4 linked regions of the Homo sapiens genome follow. The protein of the gene in region 1 interacts with the protein of each later gene in a biochemical or structural test. Each region holds a gene or a part of one and is shown on either strand. Other genes may lie near its edges.

What was found.
Region 2: the proteins of USP17L2 (region 1) and SUDS3 form a complex in vitro, tested with the Homo sapiens proteins (one study listed by BioGRID).
Region 3: the proteins of USP17L2 (region 1) and KMT5A form a complex in vitro, tested with the Homo sapiens proteins (one study listed by BioGRID).
Region 4: the proteins of USP17L2 (region 1) and CDK6 form a complex in vitro, tested with the Homo sapiens proteins (3 studies listed by BioGRID, with this or other methods).

Annotation. Positions count from the first base shown.
Region 1 is NC_000008.11:12,135,927-12,143,514, reverse strand, and holds USP17L2 (ubiquitin carboxyl-terminal hydrolase 17), read left to right. Parts: upstream 1-4,665; 5' UTR 4,666-4,754; coding exon 4,755-6,347; 3' UTR 6,348-7,080; downstream 7,081-7,588. UniProt on the Homo sapiens protein: Deubiquitinating enzyme that removes conjugated ubiquitin from specific proteins to regulate different cellular processes.
Region 2 is NC_000012.12:118,379,546-118,386,569, forward strand, and holds part of SUDS3 (sin3 histone deacetylase corepressor complex component SDS3), read left to right. Parts: intron 1-616; coding exon 617-686; intron 687-1,424; exon of another isoform or gene 1,425-2,143; coding exon of another isoform or gene 2,144-2,289; intron 2,290-2,314; exon of another isoform or gene 2,315-3,839; intron 3,840-4,466; coding exon 4,467-4,522; intron 4,523-6,568; coding exon 6,569-6,640; intron 6,641-7,024.
Region 3 is NC_000012.12:123,394,129-123,401,152, reverse strand, and holds part of KMT5A (N-lysine methyltransferase KMT5A), read right to left. Parts: intron 6,107-7,024; coding exon 5,887-6,106; intron 4,809-5,886; coding exon 4,721-4,808; intron 1-4,720. UniProt on the Homo sapiens protein: Protein-lysine N-methyltransferase that monomethylates both histones and non-histone proteins. Specifically monomethylates 'Lys-20' of histone H4 (H4K20me1).
Region 4 is NC_000007.14:92,833,570-92,840,627, reverse strand, and holds the start of CDK6 (cyclin-dependent kinase 6), read left to right. Parts: upstream 1-4,054; 5' UTR 4,055-4,150; intron 4,151-6,668; exon of another isoform or gene 6,669-6,825; intron 6,826-6,937; 5' UTR 6,938-7,058. UniProt on the Homo sapiens protein: Serine/threonine-protein kinase involved in the control of the cell cycle and differentiation; promotes G1/S transition. Phosphorylates pRB/RB1 and NPM1.

The sequences.
Region 1 (7,588 bases):
AATTTAAGCAATACCATTCAGGACATAGGCATGGGCAAAGACTTCATGACAAAAATGCCAAAAGCAATTGCAACAAAAGCCAAAATTGACAAATTGGATCTAATTAAACTAAAGACCTTCTGCACAGCAAAGAAACTATCATCAGCATGAAAAAGCAACCTACAGAATGGGAGAAAATTGTTGCAATCTGCCCATCTGACAAAGGTCTAATAACCAAAGTTGACAAGGAACTTAAACATATTTACAAGCAAAAAAACAAACAACCCCATCAAAAGTGAGCAAAAGATATGAACAGAAACTTATCAAAAGAAGACATTTATGCAACCAACAAATATATTTTTAAAAAGCTCAACAACACTGATCATCAGAGAAATGAAAATCAAAATTACAGTGAGATACCATCTCACACCCGTCAGAATGGCGATTATTAAAAAATTAAGAAACAATAGATGCTGGTGAGGCTGAGAAGAAAGAGGAAGGTTTTTACACTGTTGGTGAAACTGTAAATTAGTTCAACCATTGTGGAAGACAGTATGGCGATTCCTCAAGGATCTAGAACCAGAAATACCATTTGACCCAGCAATCGCATTACTGGCTATGTACCCAAAGGAATATAAATCATTCCACTATAAAGACACATGCACACGTATGTTTATTGCAGCACTATATACAATAGGAAAGACATGAAACCAACCCAAATGCCCTTCAGTGCTAGAATGGATAAAGAAAATGTGGTACGTATACACCAAAAAATACTATGCAGTCATAAAAAGGAATGAGATCATGTCTTTTGCAGGCACATGGATGAAGGTGAAGCCATCATACTGAGCAAACTAACACAGGAACAACAACAACAAAAAAAACAAATACCGCATGTTCTCACTAATAAGTGAAAGTTGAACACTGAGGAAACAAGGACACAGTGAGAGGAACAACACACAACACAGCCCGTTGGGGGCTGGGGGTGAGGGAAGGAAACTTACAGGATAAGTCAATAGGTGCAACGAACCACCATAGCAGAGGATACCTATATAACAAGCCTGCTCGTTCTGCACATGTATCCTGTATTTTTTAAATTTAAAAAGAGGAAATACGTACATACGTACATACATGCATACATACATACATACGTACGTACATACTTTTGAAAAACGTCTATACAGCTTGGATCTTCATTCCTGATAAGCCAAGGAACCTGGAGAAACACCAGAATTCTGTCCCTCTGAGAATGCCGGACAGGTTTACCTTCATCACCATAAAATTTTGGAACAAATGTGGTAACTGCAGGTTCTCCCCACAATGAGTAACTGAAAATTGAGGCAGTATTGCAGATCCTAAAAAACTGATGAAGTAATTCACCACACATTTGGGTTGTTTTTGCCTTTTCCTACTATGAAGATTGCTAGTAGGAAGAATGGTGTACAAGTATCTGTTTGATTCCCTGCTTTTAGAATCCTTTGCTTGTTTGTGTGTTTGTCTGTTCCTTCTTGAGACAGGATTTCACTCCAGTCAGCCAGGCTTTTCCAGTGTGTAATTTTTGTTGTTTCCTTTTGTCAAGTTTTAGAAGTTGTTATTTTACTTCTATTGAATTTTAAGGCATTTTTAGATATGTATTAAAACATTATCACACATGCCGTGTGTTACATTGCAATTATCTTCATCGTTCCTTTAAGAAACAAAAGGTTTTAGCTTAGATATCTTCCAATTTGTGAAGCTTTTCTGATTTTGACTTTTTTAAAAATGATGTCATATACAAGAAACCCTTGGATTAAAAATGCCATGAATATTTCTCTCATACACACAAACTGTTTAATATGTACACAATTGTTAAATAGCATTGTTATATATGAAATAAGGCAAATGTTTAGCTACTATCCTAGCCCGGTTCCACACCTAACATATTTGCTCATAATACTGACAAGTAAATCTGCTTCAACTCTTCCATAGTCACAGTGTAAGCAGTGTCCATTAAATTCTCTGAGGAATGCAAGAGGATACAACCTAAGACAAAAAACTTAATTGAATCCTGATATATTATTAGTAAATAGGGTAATTGATGGATAAATGTAATGGTCTCGGTGGGTGGACAGTAGTTATATAAGGGCTGATGCAGCAAGATAATTATTTAAAAGAGTTTGAAAGAAATGGAAACAGAAGAGTGGATGTATTCAGCTAAAATAAAATCCGGAAGCCCTGAAATAAATCTCATTTTGGGTGTAAAAAAATGGCATTAGAGGAGATTCTGGGTCAATCATCAAGCTGTGAAAGCTGCATCTTGGAAGCAGGATCCCTGTAATGCAACGAGACTTGTATATCAGAGGTGGTCTTTCAGTGGAAAAGATTTTGAAGAATGGACCCTTCCTTTTGTGTATTTGACGATTAGACTTCATGCCAAATCTCGGGTTTAAAACTCTATTTAAACATTAACAGAATTAATTAAAATGGCAAAAAATCAAGAAATTTTTTGATTAGGAATCATCACATATTCATTTCTTGTTAGGTACAGTTATCAAAGATGACCTACCAGAGAGAAACGATTGTGGAGAATGGCCCCTTACTTTTGTATATTTGCTGATAAGATTTCATAGTCCATTTATCATTAGGTACAAAGATCAAAGTTGACCTACCAAAGAGTTGAGATGTCCAGGACAGAACTCAGGGCTCGGTAGAACCACAGAATCTTGGGTGAAATATTGCTCAAGAACAAAAATGTGCTTATTCAGAGTGTTTGTGTGTGACATGTGTGTGAATTAAAGTGCAATGAGCATGACACGCAGGCAGGACATCAATTCGGCTCACCTCAAAAGCAGTTATGAGCATTAAAGGACAACAATTCCTAGGTCCCGCTTAAAGAGATAAGACCATCCAACACCCTGTGTGAAGCCACGGCATCTGGATTGCTCATGTTTCTGGGGAACATTCTTCTGAAAATGGCGGCTCCTTTCTCCCTGTGGAGCATCTTTCTAAGCAGTGCTCCTTTCTTCCCCCAGGACACTTTACATCGGGCATAGGAAGCCTTCTGATGAAGCACACCTGGCCCATGAAAAGACAAAGGAAAGAAACAGGGCCAAAGGTCACAGCCCACTCATTTCATCACCATCCTTAAAATCATCCTAATTTCATGGGCCATGAAGCCAGGGCTGTTTCTTTACACCCAGAGGCCTTGGCGCCGGGCCTCAATTCTGCCCTGTTCCTTACTGTCTAAGACATTTTGGGAAAATCCCTAGAGCCAGGATCTTCATTCCTGGTAAGCCAGAGAGCCTGAAGACACACCCAAATGCTGTCCCTCTTAGTTCAGGGAACATGTCCACTTTCGTCAGCATTACAATTTTTGCATCAAAGGTGCTAACTGCAATTCCACCATACAATGCATAACTGGAAATGGAGGGAACATCTCAGAGCATGAACAACCGATGCGAGAATCCAGGAGATACACGGTTTATTTTTGCCATTTCCCAGTGAAACAAGAGCCAGTATTAAAAAGGTTATGCTACCCTCTGTTTCACTCACTGCTTTTAAACGTCTCCGATGTTTTCTTCTTCAGACAGGGCCTCACTCCCGTCACCCGGGCTTTTCTACGGTATAATTTTCCTTGTTTGCTTTTGTCAAAATTAGAACTTTTTATTTCATCTCTATGAAATGTTGATCCATTATCACGTAAGTATGGAAATAGTATCACCCATGCTGTGAGATACGTTGTTTTTATTTTCATCAGTTCTTTAATAAACAAAAGCTTATAGTTGGGATACCTTTGGATTTCTCAAGTTTTTTGTTTCAAGTTTTCTTAAACTGCCGCCGCACGTCCGAAACCACTCACTATACAATGTCAGGACCATCTCTCTTTTCTGGCACACATAAATTTGGGGAATGTCATCAATTAGTCTCTCGGTGATTGCATGATTTCCCCAAAGTCTTTCACAGCCTACTTTGTGCACTGAGTAACTCTTCAAACTTCAGTGCATGTTTCTACCATTTGATGCTTTATTATTTGGCAGCCTAGCTTCCACAAGAGCATTTCATGCAAAGACTTGTCTTGTTCTCCACTGGCCAGTAATTTCACTCGGATAGAGAGTCAATAGGCTGAACGTGGAAAGGTTATCCCTGGAAGGTCTGTTTGATGCCACGGATATCTCCTTTATTATTAAGGAAGAAAATACGCTGTGCTAAATACTATACTTCATTGACTATTCTCAGGTCAGAAAGCGCACTTCAGACTTCTTGTCCTTCCGTCGATGAGAGGATGACGGTAGCTGCCAAAAGTACATACTTGGAAGTTCATCCCAGCACAAGCACACACACACACACACAAACACACACACACACACACACACACAGAGAGATACACACACGGTTTCATAGGTAAAGATTTCTTCCCTGACATTCTTTTACCTAAAATAAGGCAACTGTGTGGCCACTGTCCCAACCCGGTTACACTCATATTATATGTGCCTATCACCCTGAGGAGTAATTTGATTCAGGTGTTCTAGAAGTCATGATGTGGGCTGTGTCTGTTGAATTCCCAGCGATGCAAGGGGACACACCCTGTGACTCATTCCTTAATTGAGTGCTGATATTTGATTGGTTTATCGCACACCTGATGGGTGGGTGGGGTGTTCGCGGTTGGTGGGGGTGAGTTATATAAGGGCTGATGCGGCCAGAGAGCTCGTCATTTGAAGACTCTCTTGGAAGAGATAGCGTCTTGCTGCAACCTGCAGTCCCAGCAGAAAAACCTTGTGATCCTTGTTGCGGGCGACATGGAGGACGACTCACTCTACTTGGGAGGTGAGTGGCAGTTCAACCACTTTTCAAAACTCACATCTTCTCGGCCAGATGCAGCTTTTGCTGAAATCCAGCGGACTTCTCTCCCTGAGAAGTCACCACTCTCATCTGAGGCCCGTGTCGACCTCTGTGATGATTTGGCTCCTGTGGCAAGACAGCTTGCTCCCAGGAAGAAGCTTCCTCTGAGTAGCAGGAGACCTGCTGCGGTGGGGGCTGGGCTCCAGAATATGGGAAATACCTGCTACGAGAACGCTTCCCTGCAGTGCCTGACATACACACCGCCCCTTGCCAACTACATGCTGTCCCGGGAGCACTCTCAAACATGTCAGCGTCCCAAGTGCTGCATGCTCTGTACTATGCAAGCTCACATCACATGGGCCCTCCACAGTCCTGGTCATGTCATCCAGCCCTCACAGGCATTGGCTGCTGGCTTCCATAGAGGCAAGCAGGAAGATGCCCATGAATTTCTCATGTTCACTGTGGATGCCATGAAAAAGGCATGCCTTCCCGGCCACAAGCAGGTAGATCATCACTCTAAGGACACCACCCTCATCCACCAAATATTTGGAGGCTGCTGGAGATCTCAAATCAAGTGTCTCCACTGCCACGGGATTTCAGACACTTTTGACCCTTACCTGGACATCGCCCTGGATATCCAGGCAGCTCAGAGTGTCAAGCAAGCTTTGGAACAGTTGGTGAAGCCCGAAGAACTCAATGGAGAGAATGCCTATCATTGCGGTCTTTGTCTCCAGAGGGCGCCGGCCTCCAAGACGTTAACTTTACACACTTCTGCCAAGGTCCTCATCCTTGTCTTGAAGAGATTCTCCGATGTCACAGGCAACAAACTTGCCAAGAATGTGCAATATCCTGAGTGCCTTGACATGCAGCCATACATGTCTCAGCAGAACACAGGACCTCTTGTCTATGTCCTCTATGCTGTGCTGGTCCACGCTGGGTGGAGTTGTCACGACGGACATTACTTCTCTTATGTCAAAGCTCAAGAAGGCCAGTGGTATAAAATGGATGATGCCAAGGTCACTGCCTGTAGCATCACTTCTGTCCTGAGTCAACAGGCCTATGTCCTCTTTTACATCCAGAAGAGTGAATGGGAAAGACACAGTGAGAGTGTGTCAAGAGGCAGGGAACCAAGAGCCCTCGGCGCTGAAGACACAGACAGGCGAGCAACGCAAGGAGAGCTCAAGAGAGACCACCCCTGCCTCCAGGCACCCGAGTTGGACGAGCGCTTGGTGGAAAGAGCCACTCAGGAAAGCACCTTAGACCACTGGAAATTCCCCCAAGAGCAAAACAAAACGAAGCCTGAGTTCAACGTCAGAAAAGTCGAAGGTACCCTGCCTCCCAACGTACTTGTGATTCATCAATCGAAATACAAGTGTGGGATGAAAAACCATCATCCTGAACAGCAAAGCTCCCTGCTAAACCTCTCTTCGACGACCCGGACAGATCAGGAGTCCGTGAACACTGGCACCCTCGCTTCTCTGCAAGGGAGGACCAGGAGATCCAAAGGGAAGAACAAACACAGCAAGAGGGCTCTGCTTGTGTGCCAGTGATCTCAGTGGAAGTGCCGACCCACACGTAGGGGTGAACGCACACACACACACGCACAAATACACCCACAAGCGCGCACGCAAACACACACACACACACAAACACGAACACCGTCAATCCTACATAAAGTAATGAGGAGTCCAAGTTTCTGTCTCTACAACAGGGACAACTGGATAGTGATGGCTGCATCTCAGGATGAGCCCACACATGGGAAACATCAAGTTTTGGGGTCGTGAGTCTTCCGAACCTCTGGAGAGACTGTCTGTGTGTTTGTGTTCATGGTAGATGACATTCACTGTGTATTTCTGAATATGACCTACTGACGTGTAGGTTTGAGTGTGAGGTTATTGCAGGGGACTCGGTTTCCTATTTTCTCTTGGGGTGTGTTTCATTCGTCAGTTGTTGGGCGGCACGAGAAGGTGAAATTTTGCTCATGTGGCACATCCATGGATCATTCTCGCCACCTTGAATAGTGGAAACTGGAATGCATTTAGAAGATAGGAACGGTGCTCTTCTTTCTTACCCTGGCTCACCGTTTTTACATTGGTTTCTGAATGGACCTCAGGCGCCCTGGGACTTGTGCTCTTGCTGGAACCCACATAACGCCGGAAACAGACAGACCGACTTGCCTGTTTCACGATGTCCAATTCCAATGAGTCGAAATGGAAAATTTTCCCACTGGCATGTCAGTCATTTGGAAATAAGTCGTATTGATAATAAAGGAAATCAAACACAGGAGTGTGTGTATTCAACTGAAATAAATTCAGAAAGCCCTGAAATAAACCTCATTTGGTGTGCTTACAAATGGCATTTGGGGAGATTCCGGGTCATTCGTCCAGCTGCGAAAGCTGCATCTCTGAAGCACAGTCCCTGTCCTGCAATCAGACTTACGTATCCGACGTGGTGTTTCCGTGGAAATGATTGTGGGAAATGGCCCCTTGCTTGTCTGTATTTGCTGATTAGATTTCATGGTCCCTTTCTCGTTAGGTGCAGTGATCAAAGTTGACCAACCCCAGAGGAAAGCTGCCCAGGGCACCACTCAGGGCTCCGTAGAACCACAGAATCTTGGGCGCAACCCTGCTCAAGCACCCAAATGTGCATACGAACAGGGTCTCCGTGTGACGTGTGTGAAAACTACAGTGTGATGAGCATGACTCGCAGACAGGTTATCGATTGGGCTCCCCTCAAAATCAGTTAGGAACATGAAAGCACACCGATGCCCAGGTCCCGGCTGCAGGAATAA
Region 2 (7,024 bases), on another chromosome or scaffold:
TAACCACTCCCCCACGGATACTGAGGGACAACCGTGTATCCTGATGTAAAATGTGCGAAGGGTTCCAACTGGGTATGTATCAGAAGAGAATGTACATACTAGTTTTTTTCTGGAGCAGCGAGTAAGGCTTGACTGCCTGCAGTGTCCAGTCTTACGCCTGCATCTCCTTTCTTGAGTTGCCAGCATTGTTGTTTCTGCAGAAGTAGCAGCCTTCACCATAACTGCCTGTGCCTGAGACACCCTATTCTGTGGCTGCATTTCAGGTAAAGGCAAGCTTTTTGCATAAATCTGACTGTAAGTTGGAAATGGCCTTTTCTTTTCTGAAGTACGGCTGTCCCTCGGTATCTATGGGGGACTGGTTCCAGGACTTCATGGATACTACAACCTGAGGATACTCAAATTCTTTGCATTGGCCTTTTGTGTCCACAGGTTTCGTGTTTGCAGATAGGGATGGCCTACTAACTGTATGTAATGTTTTTCATTGATGGCTTTGTGCAAGCCTGCCTTGAATAGAAATTGATTTTACGGGAGTTTATTGAGTGCATACTCTGTGTCAGGTGACGCCAACTCCGTGAATTATGATTTTAACTAGCCCCTATTTCCTAACTTTATTCAGACACTGAGGATGCTAGTGAAACTGACCTGGCAAAGCATGATGAAGAAGACTATGTAGAAATGAAGGAACAGTGAGTATGATATGCCTATGTCTTTTTGGAACATAGAATTGACAACATCTTTATATAGATTGAGCATCCCAAATCTGAAATCTCAGATGCTCCAAAATCTAAAACTTCCTGAGTGCCAGCATGATGCTCAAAGGAAATGCTCATTGCACTATTTCAGATTTCAGATTTTTGGATGTGGGATGCTCAGCTGGTAAGTATATTGCAAATAATCTAAAATTTGAAAAAATCCAAAACACTTCTGATCCCAAGCATTTCAGATAAGGGATACTTAATCTGTAGTAACCTTGTGTGTATGAGTTTGACCATAGCGCTTCCAAAGACCATGTATGTTTACAATTTCTCCACTTTAAATTAATTACATTTAATCAGTCTTCCCGTTATAAGACTTTGTTGAGTACTCTCTAGAAAGAATCTTGAGGGCAATGGACCCAGGGGAGGGAATGAGGCCGTACAACAGGAGAGGACCTTTTACTACTTACTCTTTTTTTTCCTTGAGACAGAGCCTTGCTCTTTCGTCCAGACTGGAGTGCAGTGGCAGGATCTCCTCACTGCAACCACCGCCTTCCGGATTCAAATGATTCTCCTGCCTCAGCCTCCTGAGTAGCTGGGATTACAGGTGCACGCCACCACGCTCAGCTAATTTTTGTATTTTTAGTAGAGACAGGGTTTCACCATGTTGGCCAGGCTGGTCTCGAACTCCTGAGCTCGTGATCCGCCCACCTTGGCCTTCCAAAGTGCTGGGATTACAGGCGCGAGCCACTGCGCCCGGACCTTTTTTTTTCTTTTCTTTTTTAATGGGCAAACCAATGCACAGAGAGGGTAATTGTTGTCTTGAAGCAATTGGGTTCTCAGGTGAGTGTAAACTCACTGCACTAATGTGCTAGACAAGGTGCCGGAGGCCTGGAGAGCTCAGAGAAGCCACGATTGAAAAGCAGGCTGCTGACTCTTATTTATTTATTTATTTATTTTTATTTGTTTAATTTTTTTTTTTGAGATGGAGTCTTGCTCGGTTGCCCAGGCTGGAGTGCAGTGGTGCAATCTTGGCTCACCACAACCTCCACCTCCCAGGTTCAAGTGATTCTCCTGCCTCAGCCTCCCAAGTAGCTGGGATTATAGACATGCACCACCATGCCCGGCTAATTTTTGTATTTATTTATTTTTTTTGTGTGGAGATGGAGTGTCGCTTTGTTGCCCAGGCTGGAGTGCAGTGGCCTGATCTCGGCTCACTGCAACCTCTGCCTCCTGGGCTCAAGCAATTCTCCTGCCTCAGCCTCCCGAGTAGCAAGGACTACAGGCACATGCCACCATGCCCGGCTAATAATTTTCGTATTTTTAATAGAGACGGGGTTTCTCCATGTTGGCCAGGCTGGTGTCAAAACTCTTGACCTCAGGTGATCCACCTGCTTTGGTCTCCCAAAGTGCTGGGATTACAGGCGTGAGCGACCCTGCCTGGCCACATGCTGACTCTCAGGCCAGTGCTCTGTCCACGTTTGCACCTGCTCTCACCCAAACCTTCTCATTGTCTTCAGACAGAGCCACAGCCGAACAGATTCAGAGAAACGAAAACCTCACTCACTTTTAGCGTACACCCAGATGGAAAACGGTATAAAGTATATTTAATGTATATTTGTTGAATGTGTTAGGTTTTTAAAGTTCTTTACCTTTTAACAGGATGATCCACATTCATTTCCCTTTAGGTCCTTTTTGCAAATGTTTTGTGGCCATCCTCTGGATTCTCACATTGTTTTTGTGCTTTGGAACTCAAAGGGGTAATTCAGCTAGGTCTAACCAGTGCTGAATAAAGATGGATTACTTTTTTTTTTTTTGAAACAGAGTCTCACTCTGTCACCCAGGCTGGAGTGCAATGGCATGATCTCGTCTCACTGCAACCTCCACCTCCTGAGTTCGAGTGATTGTCATGGCTAAGCCTCCTGAGTAGCTGGGACTACAGGCATGCGCCACTACGCCTGGCTGATTTTTTTGTTGTTGTATTTTTAGTAGAGACGGGGTTTCACCATGTTGGCCAGGCTGGTCTTGAACTCCTGACCTCAGATGATCTGCTTGCTTCAGCCTCCCATCGTGTTGAGATTACAGGCCTGAGCCATCGTGCCAGGCCACTTTTTTTTGAGACAGTAGCCACTTTTTTTTGAGACAGTATCTTGTTTTGTTGCCTGGGCTGGAGTGCAGTGGCATGATAGCAGCTCACTGCAGTCTCAACCTCTGGGGCTCAATCCATTGATCCTCCCACCTCAGCCTTCCAAGTAGCTGGGACAACAGGCACGTGCCACCACGCCCAGCTGATTTTTAAAATTTTTAGTAGAAACTAGGTCTCACTGTGTTGCCCAGGCTGGTCTTGAATGCCTGAGCTCAAGCATTCCTCCTGTTTCGGCCTCCTGGAGTGCTAGGATTACAAGAATAAGCCAATGTGCCCAGCCTTTTTTTTTTTTTTTTTAAGAGACAGGGTCTTGCTCTGTCGCCCAGGCTGGAGTGCAGTGGCATGATCTCGGCTCACTGCAACCTCCAGCCCCTGGGTTCAAGCTATTCTTCTGCCTCAGCCTCACGAGTAGCTGGGATTACAGGCGCCCACCACCACGTCTGGCTAATTTTTTTTTTTTAAGTAGAGACAGGGTTTCACCATGTTGGCCAGGTTGGTCTCGAACTCCTGACCTCAAGTGATCCACCCGCCTCGGCCTCCTAAAGTGCTGGGATTACAGGCGTGAGCCACCTTGCCTGGCCTCCCTTAGTATTTGATGATACAGAAAAAATTTCGGTTAAAATGGAATGCCTTGTGTAATTCAAGGGGAAATCTAAAGTGCATCAGAATTTGCCCTGAAAGAGTGAGATGTGTGTGAGTCTCAAATTCTGCCTACTCTCCTCCCCTTACAGAGGGTTGGGTTGTATTTGCAGCCCTTATTTGAGCGCTAAAAAGGTTATCACGCCCATGTGCTCACTTCAGCAGCACATATACCAAAAGGTTATTGTGCTTGTTATATGTTGGACAGTGTTCTTTCAGATCACAAATCTTGTTTTTATCACTGTTAAATTGAGGGTGTTTTTCAGGTAGAAGCAAAAATACTTGCTGAAATGTGATTTATATGTGGAACCCACCTTCAAACCAACTTGCTGAAGTTATGACTGCCTATAATCCATTAGGTGTGAGAGGAAAAAACTAACATGCCAAATGCTTTTGCTTCGTGTGTGCTGTGTATTCCCATCCAGCTGGGGCTGCCAGTAAATGCTGCCTTTTAACTTTTCTTTCTGAATTACTATTATTTCTCTGATCCTAAAAGAGTAGTGCTTTAAAAAATGACATGAAGGTTTATTGACTTAGTTCTTACACTGCTAAGCATATCTGCATAGAAAAACATGCTGAAGGCATAATCTTACTCTCCTGTAACTTACAATCTAATTGTAGAGTTGATGTAAGAGTTGTGTTTAATGCCATTTCTACATTGTGTGTGTGCTTGCCTGTTTATAATTGTCATTTATTAAAATCTGCTATCGTTGCAAGTTTTAGACGGATTCTGTAAAGATGGGATAACATGGGAGAATCTACAAAATTAGAATAAGATTGAGGAACACAGGGTTCTTTCTTGTTCCTTTCTGATCCCTGTGGCTGCTGGTGCATTTTAAGCCAGCAAGCAGACTTTACTTTCCTCTCTTCCCTGAAGGACATTAATGACCTTCCCATAACAGCCCAGCTAATTTCTGTGAGTAGGTTATTTTGGAATTGAGTATTGAATGTTTTTATCTGTTAGTGTGACTTTTTTTTTTTTATAGGATGTATCAGGACAAACTGGCTTCTCTCAAGAGGCAGTTGCAACAACTGCAAGAAGGTTGGTGTGTGATTGAATCCTGCATTTCTAAATATGCTTCTTAATATTACAAACCCTTGAAATCTGTGTATTTCACTTCTCTGTGGGAGTTATTTAAAACACGGTCTGGCTGATCTTAGCTATCCAGTACATTTTGCTATCTTTTGCTGTCAGTAAAGTGGTGATTTTCCAGCTCCTTGATTTTGAAACATTTATTTCCAGTATGTGTGAGATTCTTTCTTCAAATGAAATCTCACTTGGGACTTTCAATGGAGCACGAATTGAACGCCACTGTGCCTAAAGCTAGAGATTTTTAGGAGAGACATTGTTATCAAAGAATAAAGTTTTTACTGTTTTTTCTAAACCAAATGTTAATGACCTTGTGGATTATTCACACTGTGTTTTCTCCTTTTTGCTTGTTACATTAAAAGTAGATTGTATTTTGTCAAATGCTGCTAGCTGCTAAAGGCAGTGCAGCATCAGAGTTAAGAGTGCAGGCTGTGAGGCCAGGCGCGGTGGCTCACACCTGTAATCCCAGCACTTTGCGAGGCCGAGGCGGGTGGATCACGAGGTCAGGAGATCGAGACAATCTTGGCTAACATGGTGAAACCCCGTCTCTACTGAAAAATGCAAAAAATTAGCTGGGCGTTGTAGTGGGCACCTGTAGTCCCAGCTACTCTGGAGGCTGAGGCAGGAGAATAGCGTGAACCTGGAGGCGGAACTTGCAGTGAGCCAAGATCGTGCCACTGCACTCCAGCATGGGCGACAAAGCGAGACTCAGTCTCAAAAAAAAAAAAAAGAGTGCAGGCTCTGGAGTTTTGTGAGGGATTGGAATCCCAGTTTCCCTGCTTCTAGTAATGTGACCTTGGACATGCCAGTTTCTCTTGTTTAATCTGTTTTCTGATCTGCAAAATGAAGCAAGTAAGAGTAGATGTGATTATGCATGAGGAGCGTCTAGCACAGCAGTGTGCACACTGCAAGGTCCTGGGGACAGTTAGCTGTGGCAGTGAGCTCTTCGGTTTCATATTGTGGAGTCCCCTTGTCAGTGAAACTGTTTTTGCTTTTCTTTTTTTTTTTTTCGAGGCTGAGTTCCGCTTTTGTCACCCAGGTGGAGGGCAGTGGCGCGATCTCAGCTCACTGCAACCTTCACCTCCTGGGTTCAAGCGATTCTCCTGCGTCAGCCTCCCGAGTAGCTGGGATTACAGACGCCTGCCACCAGGCCCGGCTAATTTTTGTATTTTTAATAGAAACGGGGTTTCACCACATTGGCCAGGCTGGTCTTGAACTCCTGAACTCAGGTGATCCGCCCACCTCAGCCTCTCAAAGTGCTGGGATCACAGGCATGAGCCACCATGCCCAGCCTGATACTGCTGTTTCTACTATGTGCTTTTATTGCTGGTGAGTGATCCACGCCCTTGGACTAGCCCATGGTCAGGCATTATAATCAGGAAACACTTCCCCCCACAAGATGGGCCCCTCATAATTAACTGTTTTGTGGGAAGAGCAATGAAATGAATAGCGATTTGGTTAGAATCTATACCTGAATTGTTTAATGCTGTCACTAGCCACATGTGGCTGTTTAAATTTAATTAATAATTTAGTTCTTCGGTTCCACTAGCTACATTTCAAGTGCTAAAATAGCCACAAATGGTTAGTGCCTGCCATGTTGGACATTGCAAATATAAAACACACCATTGCAGAAGGTTCTACTGGAGAGCGTTGACCTAGACCTTACTGAAGGAGAATGAACCTTTTCCAGTAAAGGAAGGCCCGTTGATTCAGACTGTTGCAGCAACTGATCAGAATAGTGTGGAGATATTGGCAATTTTCCACTCCCCCTCACTCACTACAGACCCTTGATCCACTGGGTTGGGTAGACTTTGAATGGGCCCCTAGTGGTTTCTGCTGTGTGCCTTGGTTAAGAACCAGAGTTAACTTTGCTGAGGTGTGTCTTCCTTTGGTGTTACTGAAACAGTCAGTGTTGATGCTAGATAATAATTTTAGGAAGCAAAATGTAGAGCAGATTTATATTCACAATAATTTTATTTTTCAAATGTTCAAAATCAGGTACATTACAGGAATATCAGAAGAGAATGAAAAAACTAGATCAGCAGTACAAAGAGAGGATACGGAATGCAGGTAAGGCTCCTTTAAATGGCAATGAATCATCTTTCAATGTTTGACCATTTGCCGATCGTCGGTGTAATGCAGCCCTAAGAGCTATTCTCCAAAACATATCCCAGATACTCTGTCAGGGAGAGTTTTCAGAAAAGAGACTTCCAAGCTGCAGTTATGGAAAGTGGTTTCATCTTCTGCTTCTGTTGCTAAGGAATGGCCCAGAAGTGGAGGGTGTCTGAGGAGGCTCCTTGGAGTTAGGTTGTTCTCCCTGGTACCCCAAGAGTAGTCTTGCACCCTCTTGCTCATTTCTGCATGGCTGGCCTGATGTACAGTCAGAAGTGCGGATGAGGAAAAGGATTGTAGGTTGTTTTTGTCCCATTTTAAGTTTTTTTTTTTGGTATTTTG
Region 3 (7,024 bases), on another chromosome or scaffold:
AAAAAAAAGAAAGATATATATTGGTGGAATAGATTTAAAAAAAACAACAACAAAACTTGGTCAGGTACAGTGGCTCATGCCTGTAATCCCAGCAGTTTGGGAGGCCAAGGCAGGTGGATCACCTGAGGTCAGGAGTTCGAGACCAGCCTGGCCAACATGACGAAACCCTGTCTCTACTAAAAATACAAAAATCAGCCGGGCATAGTGGTGCACACTTGTAATCCAAGCTACTTGGGAGTCTCAGGCCAGGAGGCGGAGGTTAGTAAGCCATAATCATGCCACTGTACTCCAGCCTGGGCAACAGAGTGAGACCTTGTCTCAAAACAAAAAACAAAAAACAAAAAAAAAACTTCAACCAACAGTAATATACCAATGTTGGTTGTTACTTAGCTGTGACAAATTCACCAGAGTAACTTAAGTGAGAGAAGATGGGTAAGGAGTCTGGGGAACTCTCTGTATTATCTTTGCAACTTTTCTATAAAATTAAAATTATTGGCCAGGCGCGGTGGCTCACATCTGTAATCCTAGCACTTTGGGAGGCCAAGGTGGGCGGATCACAAGGTCAGGAGTTTGAGGCCAGCCTGACCAACATGGTGAAACTCTGTCTCTACTAAAAACACAAAAATTAGCTGGGCGTGGTGGCAAGCGCCTATAATCCCAGCTACTTGGGAGGTTGAGGCAGGAGAATTGCTTGAACCTGGGAGGTGGAGGTTGCAGTGAGCCGAGATCGCACACCTGCACTCCAGCGCGGGCTACAGAGTGAGACTCTGTCTCAAAAAAAAAAAAATTGCAAAATAAAAACATTTTAAAAACTTTTTGGCTGGGCACGGTGGCTCACGCCTGTAATCCCAGCACTTTGGGAGGCCGAGGCGGGCGGATCACAAGGTCAGGAGATCGAGACCATCCTGGCTAACACGGTGAAACCCCGTCTCTACTAAAAACACCAAAAATTAGCCGGGCGTGGTGGCAGGCGCCTGTAGTCCCAGCTACTTGGGAGGCCTTTTTAATTATTTTTTAAGATGGGGTCTCACGGCCGGGCTCAGTGGCTCACGCCTGTAATCCCAGCACTTTGGGAGGCCGAGGCAAGTGGATCATGAGGTCAGGCATTTTGAGACCAGCCTGGCCAACGCAGTGAAACCCTGTCTCTACTAAAAATACAAAATCAGCTGGGCATGGTGGTGGGCGCCTGTAATCCCAGGTACTCAGGAGACTGAGGCAGGAGAATCACTTGAACCCGGGAGGTGGAGGCTGCAGTGAGCCAAGATCGCGCCATTGCACTCCAGCCTAGGTGACAGTGTGAGACTCTGTCTCGAAAAAAACAAAACAACAAAAAACCCACAAAAGATGGGGTCTCACAATGTTGCCCAGGTTGGTACTGAACTTCTGTTCTCAAGTAATCCTCCCACCTCAGCCTCCCAAGTAGCTGGTGTCTTTTTTGTTGTTAATTACTCCCCATTGGAAAACAAGCCCTACGGGCTGGTCTAGTTTACTGTGGAATCTCCTGGTCTAGAACAGTGCACACAGCAGGCCCTCAAAGCAACACCACCACCATCACACACATAACCACCTTGCTGTGTGACCCATTCATTGCAAGTGTGCAGAGAGTGCTGAGAAGTACGGGGGCCCATGTAAACGGGAGTGATCATGGAAAGACCGGGGTAGTGGAATGGGGGTTTTTCTGCTGGGACCAAACACGGCAGGTAGGAGATGCGCAGAGGGAAGCTGGGACCAGGCCAGATGCCCCGGCACAAAGCCAGGGAGGCTGAGTCTCCCAAAGGCCTGGAATTTGGGGCCTGCAAACAACCAGCCCTGGGTTTTCTAAAGGGACTTCTGGCAGGAACCCACAAATGGGCCTAGAAGGAGATGGAGTGGGAGGGATACAAGGTTGGAACTAGGGCAGTTGAGAAGCGCCTGTGACCAGGAAGGAGGGGACCTTCCCAAGCGGAATCAGCAGGCTGCTTGCACATCTGGCCCTGGGGCCGAGCTGGGCATGAGGAAGCCCAGCCATTGCCAAGAGGCATGGTCCCTGCCCCGCTGCTGGCTGCCACCCCACCCACAGCCAGGCTGGCCGGCCAAGGGGCCCCTGCAGTGAAGCACTTGGTGGATAGGGCATCTCTCCAAGGCCCACCTTGTGTCCAAATCCAGCAGCCCTGATCCCACCCTGTTGCCCAGGACCCACGCCCTGGCGCTAGGCCCGCCCTGGCTGCTGTCTTCAGCCTCAGTGGAGGTATATAAGAGGCTCTGAATTGCAGTTTCACCCCAGACCATCTGGCCAACAACAGGCTGTATTATGCCCCACCCTCCTGGATCCACAGCCTGGGCCCAGCATGGCAGTCAAGTCAGGACTGACCCCACCCTTCAGATGAGCCCCAGCTGTCCCGTTCTTGGGCTTTATCTGTGCAGTCAGAAAATATTCCACCCTGACCAGCTCTAGCCACGTCATCCCGGCCAGCTATGGCCTCCCTGCCCTGGCCAGCAACAGCTTGCATGGCTGCACTCAGCAGAGCCAACACAAACAGTGGGGGGCAAAGCACGGCTCCCGGTCCAGGAACAGGGCGAGCTTTCTTGTGTTTGCAGACTGTGCTTTAGGGAAGCAAGTGTGTTCTTCCCTTCTGCTCATCTGCTGCAAGATTTAGCAGACCTGCATCCTGTCCCATCGCAGCCTTCACTCTGCCCAGCACAAACTCTTGCTTCTTATTAACAAGGCCAACTCGGCTCCCCCCACCCTAAAGTCCACAGCAGCCCTTGGTGGACGCTCAGCAGAGGCCCTGTGTGTGGGCACACCGCAGCTCCAACCCTGGCTGGGAGGTGTCTGGGATTCTGTGGTCTGGCACCACCTCACCATCTGCAGTGCTGTCTTTTTTTTTTTTTGAGACGGAGTCTTGCTCAGCCACCCAAGATGGAGTGCGGTGGCGCGATCTCGGCTCACTGCAACTACCGTCTCCTGGGTTCAAGTGATTCTCCCATCTCAGCCTCCCAAGTAGCTGGGATTACAGGCACCTGCCATCATGCCTGGCTAATTTTTGTATTTTAGTAGAGACAAGGTTTCACCATGTTGGCCAGGCTGGTCTCGAACTCCTGACCTCAGATGATCCGCTCACCTGGGCCTCCCAAAGTGCTAGGATTACAGGTGTGAGCCACTGCACCTGGCCCAGTGCTGTCTTTAAGAGTGACCTAGCAGGCCGAGCACGGTGGCTCACGTCTGTAATCCCAGCACTTTGGGAGGCTGAGGTGGGCGGATCACCCGAGGTCGAGAGTTCGAGACCAGCCTGACCAACATGGACAAATCCAATCTCCACTAAAAAAAAAAAATACAAAATTAGCTGGGCGTGGTGGCGAATGCCTGTAGTCCCAGCTACTCAGGAGGCTGAGACAGGAGAATCACTTGAACCCAAGAGATGGAGGTTGCGGTGAGTCGAGATCACGCCATTGCACTCCAGCCTGGGCAACAAGAGCAAAACTCCATCTCAAAAAAAAAAAAAAAAAAAAGTGACCTAGCACAGCCTCCCACTGCTGACAAATGTTTTAAACAGCTCATTCTTGGCTGAAAGACATTGCCTTTTTCAGGCAATAAAACCAAAGCTGCTCTCTGTGGGGAAGAAAATGGACCTTTTTAAAAATTTTTTTTAAATGAAGCTTCATCAATTAAAAGAAAAAGAGAAAGAATACTAGACCACTGTGTATCTGCGCATTTAACATCAAGAACGCTGAAGGAGTCCGCATGAGGGCTGAAATGCTGAAACTGCCAAAGCCGGGGTCCCCACCTCTCTGTGTAGGATGCAATCCTGAGCACCTCTCCCAACCCGGTGGTCACTGTGGGGGTGAGGGAGAGCAGAGGGGCAGCCCCAGGTGTCCCTGAGGGGGAAGAGCAGAGGGACCTGCCATGCCCTGCGTTTCCTTCACAGAAAGGCAATAACCACACCTCACTGCAGCAAATATTGACTGCCTGCCGCATAGCTCAACCCTCTGCAAACATGGCAGCGGAGGCCCGCATAGGCCAGCTGGCCTTCCAGCCGGTGCTGCTCACTGGTCTGCAGGCTCCTAGTATGGCAGCAGCGTGGGAAAGAGCAGACGGGAGTGACAACACTGAGGAAGCAGAGGTGGCGATAGTAACAGTTAGCTGGCACTTACTGAGTGCCAAGCATGGTTCTAAGGGTTCCTCTTGCATGACCACATTTATTGAATGCTCACCACAGCTCTAGCAGGTACTACATTATTGTACCATTTTACAGACTGGAGAGCCAAGGCATGGACAGGGTAAGTGACTGGCCCAAGGCTACGCAACCAGCAAGTGGCCCCAAGCCACTGCTGTTTAACACCCTGGGCCACAACATGGAAACTTCCAGAAAACAGACAAGAAAAGCCTCTGAAAGAACAGGCAGCCTTTCCCACAGTCCCAGGCTCCCAATGGCTCTGCCAACAAGTCCTGGAAAATCCACCTTCAGAGTCACACCTGGCTTTCCCTGCCACATGCTACAAGTCACAAGGTTCCTTCACACAAGTGTCTTAACCAAGCCCTGCAGTGACCCCAGCAGAAAGGCAGGACAAGCTTTGTGAGGATCCCCGATAGATCCAGGAGAAAACCAAGTCCAGAGGGGCCAAGAGACTTGCTCCAAGATGACGAAAACAAGGCTGAGGACACACACATACGCACACGCCAAGCACTGCTTGGTGGGCCACCCTGCCCCTCCACAAACTGGAATTTAAAGCACGTGACTACCTGCAGCTCGGCTTTGCTCTTCCTGGAGCTCCTTCGGACAGGGTAGAAATCCGTAAGTTTGCGATTCTGTTGCGTTTTTCCTTGAGCTCTGGGTAAGAGGGGAAGAGGAGAAAATAAATATCAGGACTGAAAACCTGGAGGCACACAGCTCCTTAGAAGGCACACACCGAGGAGGCACACAGCTCCTTGGAGATGATGTCACTTAAACACCTTTGTCCACTGGAGCCTGCAGGTCACTCAGTCACCTGCCCATGAGGGCCTCAGAGGAGTTTCAAAGACGGGCTGCTGGCTGGGCGCAGTGCCTCATGCCTGTAATGCCAACACTCTGGGAGGCTGAGGCGGGAGGATCACTTGAGCCCAGGAGTTCAAGACCAACTCAGGCAACACAGCAAAACCCCGTCTCTAAAAAAAGGAAAGAAATTAGCCAGGCATGGTGGTGCACACCTATGGTCCCAACTACTCGGGAGGCTGAAGTAGGAGGATCACTTGGTCCTGAGAGGTTGAGGCTGCAGTGAGCTACTGCACTCCAGCCTGGATGACAGAATAAGACCCTGTCTCAAAAAACACAACAGTCGGGCATGGTGGTTCACGCCTGTAATCCCAGGACTTTGGGAGGCTGAGGCAGGCAGATCACGAGGTCAGGAGTTTGAGACCAGCCTGACCAACATGGTGAAACCCTGTCTCTAATAAAAATACAAAAATAAGCGGGACATGGTGGCATGCACCTGTAATCCCAGTTACTCAGGAGGCTGAGGCAGGGGAATCGCTTGAACCCAGGAGGTGGTGTTTGCAGTGAGCCGAGATCGCACTATTGCACTCCAGCCTGGGCAACAAGAGACTCTGTCTCAAAAAAAAAAAAAAAAAAACACAAAACACCAATCACCAAAAAAGACAAACAAAAAAAATAAATTTAAAAAACAAAGGCTGCTTATGCTGGGGTGGGTAAGGAGGGGAGGAAGGAGAGGCTCTTGAACTCTGGACCCATGCCAGATCCAGAAACTGACAAACAGTGGCATCCCTGCTGATGACTCGGGGCATCTGAGTCTTTGACATGAGAGAGGCTGAGAGGTGGCCACTGAACCCCCATGGGCACCTGAGCAGGCTTCCCTGGCATCAGAGGAACCAAACTGCTCCACGTTAGGAAGAGGACTGAATGGGGCACTTACTTTTTTCGGGGGGCCTGTTTGCCCTTGATGGGCTTTTTCAGGGCTTGCTTGGCGATGGCTGCATTGGTGGAATCACAAGATGAGGGTGGAGTTTTTGGAGGTTCTGCTGCTTCAGATTTTTGGTTTGGAAAAGGTACCAGGGGACCTTTCCTGGCGTCTTTGATCTTCTGTTCCTCGGACTTCATGGCGCTCCGTACTGCGTTCCCAGCATTTCTTTTCTCTGCAGGCGGAGGTGGGGGAAAGACGGGTTTATTCTGTACTGTCTCTCAATTTCCAGACGACCAGCTGCATTCTAAGACAAGCTTTGAGAAGACAGGATCCTGGGTTTGTCAGGCAGGAGTGCCCTTGGCCTGTTAAGCCCCGTGTCCGCTATGGGCTATGACAGGGGGAGTGCCTAGCTCCAGCTCGATTTTTTGACCAAGACACTGGGCAGAGGTTTTAGGCTTTTGCATCTTGACGTGGGAGATAGAGAGCCTGTGAGGGAGAGGCACCAGAGACGGAGACGCTGGCAGGGTGCTTGATCAATAGCTTTCAGGAATCAGGTTGCAGACTCAGATCAAAAGCTCCATTCCTGAAGGCTGGGACAGCATTAGGGGACAGGAGTAAGGTGACAAAGCAGAAACTCTTCCCCAAGAGCTGCCTGGCACCCTTCATTTCAGACTCCGAAGAAAAAGAAGGTCCCCTTCTAGTGGGGTTGAAGCCCCAGGTTCACAGCAGTTCTCAGCATGGTGCCCCAGCAGACTGGCCTGGGTATCGGGAGACACACTGCAATGATCTGTCACTTAAAACACTTGTGGAGTGACAGTGTTGGAAAACTGCTTACCTTTTTAAAAAATGTTTTACTTTTAAATAACTAAGTAAATAGGCTGGACACAGTGGCTCCTGCCTGTAATCCCAGCACTTTGGGAAGCCGAGGCTGGCGGATCACCTGAGGTCGGGAGTTCAAGACCAGCCTGGCCAACATGGTAAACCCCATCTCTACTAAAAATACAAAAATTAGCCAAGTGTACTGGCGGACACTTGTAATCCCAGCTACTCAGGAGGCTGAGGCAGGAGAACTGCTTGAACCTGGGAGGCGGAGGTTGCAGTGAGCTAAGATCATGCCATTGCACTCCAACCTGGGCGAAAGAGTGAGACT
Region 4 (7,058 bases), on another chromosome or scaffold:
AGAAGGCCATTCATCCTGAAAGAATCGGGTTGCCTGGCTACGCCATACCTATAAGCACTGAGGCTGCATCTCTCAGCCCCACGACCTCAGCATGTGCTTCCTTCACTTGTCCCTGATGCCAGGCCATTCATAGAAGTTTCTCCCCGGGTGCCTTCTTTGTCCCTCCTCCTACCTCTGAGATCCCACTTTATCATCGTTCACTCCCACTGTGTTATACCTCCACTGCTGCAACTGAATGGTCTATCTAAAGCATGTAAACACCTTTTAGCTCAACCAAAACCAGCTATGGTAACACAATTTTTAGGCCATGTGTGCAGCTGAGATGCAAGTATTATCTCAGAAAAGAAATGTTAGAAACCAGTGAAAATTACAGGTCACTGTAAATAGAAAGAAAATATAGGTATTTTAACGTGATTATCACCATCTTTTGTAAGTATATTTCCATAGTTATTTTTCTGATTACTCAGAATTCTAATATAGATGATGAAAGAATCTTAAGAACATGTTTCAAACATGTCATAACAATATGCCAAGAACATACAGGTATTCACACACACACACACACAAAGGAAAAAGAAGATATGGGTGTCTATCAAAAGGGAAAAATTAAAAAAGATGATGGCAATTATACAAATATGAACATAGTACTGACATGTTGCACAAAGAAAATTATAGAGTAGTAGAACCAATGGAAGCAGCATGTTCCAAAAGACAGTAATGTTTGTTTTTTCCTCCTTAAATGTTATAAGCTACTACTTTATATCTATTTTTTCCCTCATGGCAGATATCAAAATCATTTCAAGTTTCACTGCTCAAATGCAGTGCAATAGATCACATGCAACAGTAAAAACAGAAAAACCCAGGTCATTTCCAAATTGACAGAAAGAATTTATTTAGAAGACTGAACTTTAAAAATCATTTAAAGCTCAGAATTTTACAATGCAAAAAGTTGATAATACAATTGACTTTTCCTAAGCTATTTAGCAAACTTTCGGTAATATAGTTCAGGGGAAAACCCAAGAAAATATCTTGGAAATGTCTGAGAAGGGAAAGAAGAATGCATTAAAATGTACTGCATTTATATTATGCTATTTCTGTTAAAATTATAGTTTCTCATGATTATTACTCAATAAAGATAACATGTACACAAACACATAAATCAGGTTAAAAAGTAGGGTAACTTGTTTCAAGGTTAAACTAGAAGTGTATTTTAAAATAATTGTGTAGTACATTATAGCAAAATCTCATTTCTGAGTTTCTGGAAAATATATTTTATAAACTCAAATAGCCAATATAAATCAGAAATGAATTAGATTTAGGTGTACATTATATAATTATTATTTGTAACTAAATTACACATTTCCTTAACAAGTTAAAAATTATAGACCAAAATTTAAAATTTTATGTTTATTTTAGTGAAAACAAAATTGTACAGGTATTTGATATATAAATGTTCACACATGAAATACATTCCTTGTGTGACATTAAGAAGTCTTTCAGTGTAAGTTACACCACCATATTTGGAAATAAGTCCATGAAATGTAATTTTTAAATACCTGTAAGATGATTTGCAACTTTAGAATATCTGGTATGTAGTGTGAAAATACTGGTTGGAGTCATTATTCTTGAGTTCTATATATTAATTCTCAGAAGACTCCTAAACAAAGAAGTTGGAATTTGGTTCACAGTTTAAAAAGTTTGAACATATTTTCTTATGATAACCTGTTACCCACAGCAGAAGTTATCCATAAACAAAAATAATCTGGTATTTACTAATTTTATACAATCAATTGTAAAACTGCCTTGGGTCTGAAGCTTTCACCAACTGGGACTTAATGTGAACCATAAGCAGGAAGAGTGAACAATGATAAATTAACATAAAAGATAGCAGTATCAGGAAAAGAAGAGGACAGAGAGTTAACACTCAGTACTAACATATATAATTAAATAAAGTTTCATTGTTTTTTACATTGTCCAAATGATCTAGTAACCTAAATCATGGAATTTCTGATCTAGCAATGGTTGTTGTCAAATTCAGTAACTAAAAATTCAACCCAGTGTAGAAAAGACACTTCTCTGTTAATTTAATATTTGTAGCTTACTATTTTTTTAATAAATGATTTATTCAAATAAATTCTAGCCATGATGTGCTGCTTCCTATTTGCTGGCAATTATTTCTGGATTATATAAACATGTTAATTACCAGCAAGTAAATCTTGTTTTAAAAGGCAAATGATAAGTGTGAACAATTATCAAAATGGAGGATTCCCACTTGTGTCTCTGGCTTAAAGTCTAATTAGTGACTTGTAGTGATCCAATATTTTTATGTAAATATAAAATCTAATGATTTGCCTTCTTAAATTTATAAGGTATATGAGATTATAGATAGCTTTATAAATACAAATTTTGTTCAGAAAACTGGATCTTATTTTAGAAGACATGCTCTTAACACAAATGTATTTTATGAATTATCTTAAGCTTAAAGACATACAATTATTCACTTTTATTTTTAAAGAAAAAAGTATTATAATGCATTGCAAAATATGTGCTACTGAAAATGCATCAATTTTTATTTCCCTAGCCTTACCTCACACTATAACATAGAATCAGTTTTATAAAGGCAAAAATTTGATTTACTGTGAGATTAGTAACATGGTTTTAAAGTCAAAAGATTTATAGAAGTAGTATTTCCAATTCAAACAGAATTTTGCCAGGTTTTAATTTTTCTACAAAGCACTTAAGTAAATAATTTTGTGAAAAGTTTTGCTTTAAGATGTTTTAAAGGGTTTCAAGTATTCTACAGATAGAGATTTTGGGGAGAACACCAAATTCTTTCCAAAAAGACAGCTATTTCAAGTTTTCTTTTACTCCATTGTAGAAAGTTTTAAAGACTTTTTTTTCTCCAAAATCTAATTTTCACCTGAAATAATTGTATTCAAGGGTTTCTCAGCAGGTAAAGTATACATTCTTACAAGGTTTCAAATTTCAGATTTCCAATAATGCATTTAAACTGAGCACTCCTCTTTTTGTGTATGTATCTACTATCTGCAGTTCTATTATTTACACTAAATTTTAGTCTTTTTAGCTCCTCTGAAATACGTTAGTGAACCCTCAGCAGTTACTAACCACTTAATAATTGTGAGCCCGCCAGCCCCTTCAAGTAGATCGTTAACCATAAGAGTGCCTGACAATTTCCAAACCATATCCTCTGTCTAAAAGGAAAAGATAGGGCTTTGTGAGGCAGAAAGGAAGCGAAGGAAAACAAAACAAATGTAGCTCATGCTGAAAGTGAAAAGTGCTTGGATAGATTAGTATTTTCTTTTCTGCAAGGCATCCTGCCAAACTTTTTCTTTATTTTTTTAAGAGAAGAGTTATTTTTTGGTCTGATTTTTCAGTTTCTTGGAAAGTATTGGTATTTACCACCCCCATTGGCCGCTCATAATTATTGTTGGTTGTTTTGTGTTTTTCCCATCCGTCCACGTCACACAGTGAGGATGCCCCCCGCTTCACCCTGTCAAAACCCCAACTCTGGGCGACCCTGGGTTTGGAAACTCCGCCGACTCCCGACGACACGTCCCACTCTCTCCCACTAATGCCGCTTATTTTAGTCGCAGGATCCCCCTACTACAGTTTCAGCGAAAGCCGGAAATTTTCATTTAACTCTCCCCCCCACCCCCACCCCCACCGCGCCCTTCTAGCCCCCGACTCGTAGAAGGGAGCTAGGGAGCCCGGAGCTCGGAGCACTGCCGGGACTCGGCCGCCTCATTTCTCTCCGGAAGGCTTTAATTTGCACACTTTCTTGCCACTGCGCCACGAGCCCCCAGCCCCGCCGGGGGGTGGGTCTCCGGCAGAGTTGGCTTCGCGGGTCCCTGCCCCCACCCCGCACGGTCGCCCCAGCTGCCTCCCCGGCTGGGGCCCCCAGCGCCGGCCGGAGCCCAGCGGCCCCCGTCCGCCCCCAGCGAGCGGCGCGGGCGGCGCCCTCCGCCGTCCCTCCGCCCTCCGCCGCTGTGCCCACCCCCTCGCCGGAGAGAGTGCTGGTAACTCCTTCCCCAGAGTCTGATTACCTGCTCCGCGAGGCCGCGGACACGTGCGGAGAGCCGACTGACACTCGCAGCCCCCTCGGGAGGCCCGACGCGACTGGGCCCCTCAGGTGAGGAGCTGTGCGCTCGGGTGGGTGGGCTGCGGGGTGGGGGGTCCCGGGGGAGATCTGGGGGATTGGCCGGGGTCCGAGGCAGAACTGTGGGTGGGGTAAGTGGAGGGTGGCGGGGGGTGGGGGGGACCTGTGTTTCCTTGGAATCGGCTTTGGTTAACCCCTTACGAACTGAGACGGGATTGGTTATGGGGGCCAGTTTTGGGGAGCTAGAGGATTCTCCTTATCTGATGAGAGGGGGAGATCCCAGCCTAGGGACACCCGCGACACCGAGATCCTGCTTCCACGTATCCGTACGCACACACACCCACACGGAACACGCCTCATACAGTTTCTCCAAACGGAACTGGAACTCTACTCGGACACTCACATAATAATTCACATTTAGGGTTTAAAATGCACTGCCTCTAGGGACTCCATGCTGGAGAATGTGCTTGCATTTCCCCCTCGAAAACTCCCTCTCCAGCTCGCTGAGGTGTGGGTGTGGGCTCCACCTTCCCCTCCACGAGATAAATGTTAACGCAGGCTTCCTGCGGGCGTGTTATACACAGAAAAGTGCACGCAGCCGGCCAGTGCCCAGGCTTGGAGCCCCGCGAAGACGCACGTTTGCTGTAGTTTCCAAGTTTACTTTTATAATTTAAAATATTGGAGTTAAACACACGCCCCGCAGTGAGCAGCCCTGGTCCCCGCAGCGCGCCCGTCCGTGTGCATATGGGCGCATCTGCGTGTGCGCACACGCGGGAGTCGCGGTCCCCGGTGTGGCCTCTTGTCGCTGTGCTGGTGGCGACCCTTGTGGTGCTTGGCAGGCTTCGGGAGAGGCGCATGAAGGATTTCATTGAGTGTGAAGACAGAGAGCAGAGACAGAAAGCAGAAGGAGGCGGCTGCAGCCTTTGTAGTCGCGGAGGAATGCGGAAATGTTGAAGCACTATGTCAAACTTTTTTTGAAATGGGGTCAAGTCACATTCAGCCAGCGTGGGAAAGCAACAACAACAACAAAAAAAAGTGGAGGAGAGGGGGGGAAAAGGCATTGCTGCTCCCGTTTCTCTCCGCCGAAGCCGACCGTCTGGGGGGCGAGTGGGGGGAGAGCCAGGGCAGTGCGGGGCCCGGCGGGGGCAGCAGGCGCAGTTCCCTGCGGGGGTGGGACGTCCCCGACGCTTCCTTCGCTGCGGAGCCCGGGGCTAGACTCGAGCGGGAGGGGGTTGGGGGGATGCAGGACAGGCGGGTTGGGCGGCCGGCGGCGGCTCCCCGGCTACCTGTGTGGCCCTCGACCTGGCTCAGACCCCCGGGCAGTCCCTGGGGGCTCTTTCCTCGGCTTTTAAGGAAAGTTCTGAATGTAGTGAGTGCCAGAAGCTCTGCTCTCGCCGCGGTCCGCTCCACCCGCTCATCGTGGGGGTCGCGCCGTTTGTTTAATTCCTGGCAAAAGGCGAGCGGGCCAGCGGTTGCGAGGCAGGTAATTCCGAGGTGCCCCGGGAATTCCGGACATGCGGCCGTCGTGGTGAAAGTCCTGCCGAGGCCGCGGCGGCCCTGGAGGAGGGAGGCCCCCTAGGTCCCAGATAGCTGCTGAATGGGGAGGGAAAGTTAGGGTACCCTACTCTGGCGCTTTGTTGTGCAGAGGGCTCCGGGGGCGTCCGGCTGCAGACTGGACCGGGCCTTTAGCCGGAGGGGGAATGGGGCAGCCACCTCTGCTACCTACAGCGGGGAGGTCCTGGGAATGGGAAAAGGTTCGCGAGTCCGGGCCCCGAGGACAGAGACCTTCTCTCTCACCCCTGGAGGCGCAGGATTTAACCCCCCACCCCCCACCCTTTGAAAGGGAGGTTGAGTTTTGCTCAGGTCGAAATCAGTTTAAAACTTAAGGACGAGGCGCGATTATGCTATCCCCTTCCTGAAGTTATTCTTTAAGGAGACGACAAGCGAAATTGTGGCGAACACCCCTTTCTCCCACCCTTGGGATCCCGTGGGGGACGGTGTCTCCCCTCCCCCAGGACCGCTCGCTCGCCCACCCCCGATAAGCCCCAACCCTCCCCGACCAGATGGCTGGTCTTCCCAAGGTTTCCACCAGGGAGGTCCTCCCAGCCGGAGAGAGAATTCCGTTTCCAACCGAGACTCCTTTACCCCAAAAAGACCATTTGTGTATGCGAGTCGTTTTTAAATGTCTCCTCGTAGAAAAACTGAAAGTAGAAAGAAAGGAAGCAATTTCTGAGCAGATGTCTGACCACCCCTTCTCGCACACTCCCAGCATCGGGTTACAGGGTCCTGGGAGCCCCCACCCACATTCTGCGGCCCCACACGGATGGACCCACAGTCCTTCCGCTCCAGCTTGTGCGCGACCCCTGAACGCCCTCCGGCACCCCTGGACCCCGTCTCCCTGCACGTCCGGGCCTCAGGAGGCGGGGAGGGTAGCGGCGCAACACAATGATATAGGGATAAATATTAAGCCGTGACATTGACGTGCCCGGCGCCTCCCCTCCCCCGCGCTCCCGGCACACTCTGGGCTGCTCGGCACGCCCCCTCCCGTTCCACTGCGTCCCGCGCCGCTCGCTCATCCCCGAGGGGCCCCTGCAACCTCTCCGCGCGAAGACGGCTTCAGCCCTGCAGGGAAAGAAAAGTAACTTCGCTTTTCTCGGAGGAACCAGGAAGGATTAAGCGGCTTGGGAGAGGGCAGGAGCGCGCGGAGGGTAGCGATGGAGGCTTCGTAAAGGAGGAGGAGGGGAGTCTGGAGGAACCCCGAGGAAGGCTTCTGGGCTGTCTGATTGCACTTTCTTCTTATCCTCCCGTCTCCTCCTTTAGGTGCAATGATTCTGGACTGAGACGCGCTTGGGCAGAGGCTATGTAATCGTGTCTGTGTTGAGGACTTCGCTTCGAGGAGGGAAGAGGAGGGATCGGCTCGCTCCTCCGGCGGCGGCGGCGG